Linked DNA regions of Homo sapiens. The protein of the gene in region 2 interacts with the protein of the main gene of each other region in a biochemical or structural test. Each region holds a gene or a part of one and is shown on either strand. Other genes may lie near its edges.

The links.
Region 1: the proteins of USH1C (region 2) and RASSF6 interact in a test that uses a peptide from one of them, tested with the Homo sapiens proteins (one large-scale study listed by IntAct).

Annotation. Positions count from the first base shown.
Region 1 is NC_000004.12:73,571,050-73,573,243, reverse strand, and holds the end of RASSF6 (ras association domain-containing protein 6), read left to right. Parts: 3' UTR 1-1,694; downstream 1,695-2,194.
Region 2 is NC_000011.10:17,509,917-17,513,416, forward strand, and holds part of USH1C (harmonin), read right to left. Parts: intron 2,139-3,500; coding exon 1,986-2,138; intron 606-1,985; coding exon 489-605; intron 1-488. UniProt on the Homo sapiens protein: Anchoring/scaffolding protein that is a part of the functional network formed by USH1C, USH1G, CDH23 and MYO7A that mediates mechanotransduction in cochlear hair cells. Required for normal development and maintenance of cochlear hair cell bundles.

The sequences.
Region 1 (2,194 bases), on a different chromosome or scaffold from region 2:
GAGGCAGGAGAATCGCTTGAACCCGGGAGGCGGAGGTTGCATGAGCCGAGATGGCGCCACTGCTCTCCAGCCTGGACGACAGAGCAAGACTCCGTCTCTAAAAAAAAAAAAAGAGGGAAATAAACATTTATTTGTATATTGTTATGTAGCCATTAAAATTCTGTTTCCAAGTAATTTTAATTACAGGGGTAAATTCTTATATATCTAAATAAGAATATACACATACACATGTTCCAAAATATTTATTATGTACTTAAGGCATATATATTATATATGTATGTGTGTGTATATATATATGTATTTGTGTGTGTGAACACTAATATTTGCATATATATACACACAAGAAATAAAAACATGTTAAAAATGGCTATATCTGCATTGTAGAATTATGAGTGATTCATGTTTTTCTAACTTCCCTATCTGTATTAAGTGTTCTATAGTTTATATTTGTTACTTTTTACATCAGGAAATAGTAAAGTTATTATTTAAAACTTATGAACAAAAAAGTAACAAGCACATGCAAGCACAGAGTTCTACCAAATGCAAAAAATTTCAAATCAATTATTCAAATGAGACATTAACATCACTTCTGTGGTAGTTTTATATCCATAAAGTCTGATTCTTCTCCTTTGAAGAGATGAAGCTTAATCTTCCTCATCCTGAAAATGGGCTGGACTTAGTGACTTACGTCTTTTTATTTTATTTTTAATTGACAAATAATAATTGTATGTATTTATGGGGTACAATATTATATTATTATATATGTATACATTATGGAATTATTAAATCAAGCTAATTAACATATCCATAACCTCTTATAATTTCTTTGTGGTGAGAACATTTAAAAATGTACTCTTTTAGCAATTAGGGACTTACTTTTAATACAGGAAAATGGAAGAGACTGTGAGACTTTGAAGTAGGTCATAAAAGTCACTGTGGCTTCCTCCTTGCTCTCTCTTGGACCACTTGCTCTGGGGGAAGTCAACTGCCATGTCCTGAGCAGCCCTGGAAAGACCTACATGATGAAGAACTGAGACCTTCTATCAAATGCCAGCAGGGAATTGAGGCCTCCTGTCAACAGCCATTTTAGAAGTAGATCTTCCAGCCTCAGTCAAGCCTTCAGATGACTGCAGCCCTGTCTAATAGCTTGACCGTAATTTCATGAGAGACCTTCAGCCAGAAAACCCAAGGAAACCATTCTGGATTCCTCATCCTCAGAAACTGTATGAGATAAGAAGTGTTTGTTGTAGTACGCCGCTAAATTTGGGGCAATTTGTTACATAGCAATGTATAGCTCATACAATTTCTGGGAAAAAAATAGTTTATTTTCGAATCATTTTTGCATAATGCAAGAATATAAACTTGTCACAGAATAATTTATCCTTGTTTTAGGTGGTCCAAATATTTCATTGTCAGTTATATATTAGCTCAAATTAAATTTTAGATAATATATATTATTATTAATGGTAAAGAATGTGTCACATTTATCTTTATAGCTTTTCTGTACCTAATATTGTGTCTTGTGCGTAGGATGTGCTCAATAAAAATTGATTGAATAAATAAGTGAATGAAAGAATAAATGAATGAGTGAAGGAATTATCTGAAATATTTTTATAAAATTCCCCATATGTATGTATTACTTATTACAAGTCTGGTCCCATAGCTGAAAAAATATTAAACATTATATATATATATATGTTTTTCCCTGATATAGTGGTATATTTTATTATCTCTTGGCTCTACTATGAAATATTCAGTTAGGTGTCATTACTGTTTAATTTGGTTTAGGGCTATTTAGATTGGTTTTTGAAACTGAAGGGGAAAGAAGCCCCTTGCAATGCAATTGATGAAGTGATAAAGACAGCAGGTATAACTATTAGGTGGAGGCATATATATGGGAAAGAACAAGAAATAGGATGTAGTTACAGAGGGCAAAACCTTTCAATGACATTCATTTGTCTTCTAAATTAATAACATCTAATACCTATTAGATTGAGCCATTTGAAATTGCCAATATTTGACCTACAAAGGCAATGATTTCATATTGTTCAAACTAATAACAACTTATTTGCTGGGCACTACGTTTAATATTCATTACAATTCCATAAGGAAATTATTCTTTCAACCTCATGCTACAGATAAAGAAAGTAAGCCATGGAGCAGTTAGGAGATTTGCCAAGGTTTTTAGTAGAAG
Region 2 (3,500 bases):
TTCTAATCTGTTTCTCTTGCTACTGGAGACCCACCACCCTTACATCAGAACCATGGGGCGCCATTCCTCTGCCACCTGGATGCCCAGCTGAGGCCATACTAGGCTGCTGTTAGGGAGTGCCCAAATGCAGAAGAGCCCCAAGTTATGCCATCTGTGGGTGGTAAGGTGTTCACAGAGTTCATTCTCTAAACTGGAATGCCCTTGAGAGTGTAAGGGGGACTCTTAGTCATGATGCCAGGACAACAGGCCTAACTGAGACTATCGCAGATGAGCTGGGACTTAGAGATCACTCTGGGAGTATACCCAGAAATACAGACATATCCCTCCTCCTCAAGAGGGGAGTGGGGTGGTAGGGGTGGGCCTGGACAGTGGATGGGCACTGTGAGGCTAGTGACGTTTGCTAGTTGTCATCTCACCTCCCGCTGTCCCCACAGTGGGTCATTCTGAAGACAGCAGGAGGGTCTATGTGGAAAGAAGGGCTCTGTTACCTCTGAAATCTCATTATCAGCAGAGGAAATCTGCTCGAGGCGCGTTTGACAGAGCCTCTCCACCCAATATTGAATCTTTTCCGATTCTTCAAGGTCTTCCCGCTCTGTCTCAGACACCTGGGACCCAGGATCGGCGCAGAAAGGAGAGGACAAAGGGCACATTTGAATAACATGTGGATAGAAATAGCATGAAAGCACTCCTTTAGAAACTCCAGAGTACTGTGAGGTGCATCAGCTATCTAGAAAGAGACCTGGGCTTGTTCCAACTGGCCCTCAAGGAGGCAGCAGCAAGGGAGAAGAGAGTGGCGGGGTGTCAAATTCACTAAGCAGAACTTGTAGGCAAAATCAGAAAAGGGGCTTATGTATTGTGAGGGATTAGCTGGATCCCAGATCCCCATGAACCCTGAGGCTCTTATGATTTTCCAAGAATGGAGTTTTTGTAGCCTCCCCCAGCACATTCCAAGAGTTTAACTTGACTCTTTTTTTTCCTGCTCCATTCTGCCTTGCCCTCAGAAGCATAAGTTCAATCTTATTTTTAATTTTGTGGCTAATTTGTTCATAATGTCAGACCTAATGCATTTCACATTTTCCAGGACTTCTCTGGTTTTATAATCTAATCAAATTGGCATTCTGATTCATGGATGCGTTAAAGAGAAGCAGAAACAATGATACCTCCTACAGCTGGGGAGTTAAGGTTACCCATCTCACCTAGCATAGGAATTATTCATGGTGTAAGGTTGCTTTGGACATGTCTTCATGGGGACAGCCTCAGATATATTCCCAGGTTGATGAGGTCTAGCCTTAGACACACCCTATGTTGAGGGGAGCAGCCTTAGACTGATAGCCTGATTAATTGGGAGATAACCTCGCACCTACCACCTGCATAAGGGGGTTAGCCTCAGACCCATATTCTCAGAGCCAAGCTAAGTTGGGTGGGGGGGGGTCTGGTCTTACAATAACCTGGGAAGGGAGGCCAGAGTGATTCAGACTCGTAGACAGGTCAGTGGAAGCCTAACTTCAAAGCTACAAGCAAGGCAGAAGGGTTAGCCGCAGACCATACTCTAAGTAGCCTCAGAGCCACACCTGAGATGGAGAGGCCCAGCCTTAGACTCTGGTGGGGTAGAGTGAAGAGGACAGACTCAAATCTCTAAGCCAGGTGTATCAAAGGCTAACCTGAGACCTACCATCTGGTCAGAAAGGCTAACCTCAGACTCACACCCCCCGACCAAGGAGGCTAGTTTCAATTCCAAAGCCAGGAGCAAGACTCACACCCCCAAGCAAGGAGATTAGTTTCAATTCCTAAGCCAGGAGCTAACCTCAGATGGCCCTGGGCAGGTGGCATGATCTCTCTCTCCAGGCTGGGGAGCAGGAAAGGGCTCACTCCACCCTTGTATGCCATTTGAGGAGAACAACTCCAGCTGGTCCTCTGGGAGCACATGGAGAACGACCACATTGTGTCCCAGGGTTGCTTGCCTGGCCTGCAGGCAGGACACATACCTCCTGGGCCAGCCGGTTGATCTTTAGCTGCTTTTCCTTCTCCAGCATTTCCTCTTTCTCTTTGTAAAGCTTTTGCTCAAACTCCAGTTCTTTCTTATTCTTTCTCAAGTCCTGCAGGCTGCCATACTTGGCTTTCTTCTTATCTTTTCCTTTCTGAGTAGATGTGGCATTGTTTATATGACAAAGGTTAGAAATAGTGTCGACAGCACAGCACACGGGGCATCCAGTCCTCACATAACACAACCATCCCATGGTGAGCCCCTCCCCCAGCTCTCTCACCACTCTGGACATCAGACCTCAGGTTTAGGACAGGAAGGCCACTGCTACCTACTGCAGAGTGGGAGACACATTCTCTTTACCAGCCAGAAAGACTGGCTTATTAGTTCACTAACTAGCTGTGTGGCCTTGGCTAAGTTCCTTAACCTCTCTGGGCCTGATTTGCCTCATCTCCAAAATGGTAAAAATACCTCCCCCACAGGCTTGCCACCCAGTGCCAATGAAATAACATCCATGAAAGAACTTTGTAAAAGTTCTGTATAAATAAAAAATAAAATAAAAAAATAAATAAGTGCCATATAAATAAAGGGCATTGTGCTGATTTTCCAGTATCTGGCACATGCCTTCTGCATCATCTCATGTTCAGATTCAGAGATGCATCCTGGGAGATTCCAGAGAAAATCTGGGAGGGCTGGCAAGCTTCATCTGTAGAGGTCCCGTCCTAAGCTAGAAGTGATAGGAGTCACACTGAGACCTGGGGGCTCAGACCCAGGGACATCAGATTTTACCCGCATGCTTAAGCTCTGGACCATTTCACCCTGGAGAGTCTAGACCCACAGTTTCCTCTGAATTGTGCCCCTCTACCGAGGGCTAGCTGGAAACTGCAGGACTGGGAGGCAGGGCATGGAGAGAATGGCTTAACTGCTTTACACTCACCATCAGGGTTCTAGAGGATTTGGGGAGGGACATGAAAGGCAAATAGACTCCTTATTTTTCCTGTAGGAATTAGACCCACCGAGCCTGCATTCCTGGCTGCTTCTCTCATGGGGTTGCAGGGAAGCCAGGGGCTAAGGCAGGAAGAGAATGATCATTTATGAACTGCCTATGTGCCAAGGGATTTATACCAATGATCTCCTATGTAGGTTTATCCTCATTCTTTGATGAAGGAGCTGAGGCTCAGAGAGGTAAAGTCCCTTGTTCAATGTCAGACATCTTGTAACTGATAGTACCAGGATTTGGACCTGAGTCTTCGAGGTCCTAGTTTTTCTATGGTGCCCTGATGAGCTGGGGGCAAGGGAAACACGGCAGGAGGGAGGGTCAGCCCCTATCACACACAGCGTGGAGGACAGAGCGAGCATTCAGGAGAGGGGCAGCAGAGACAGCCCACACCCTGGGCAATTTCTGGGGCAAGGAGGAAACCCCCTGTTCACTGAGCTCACCCCCGCCCCCAACAAGCCTTCTGGGGATCTGCTCTTGAATTTTCTGAATCATCTTAGTATCCAAGGCCAGGAATAAGGA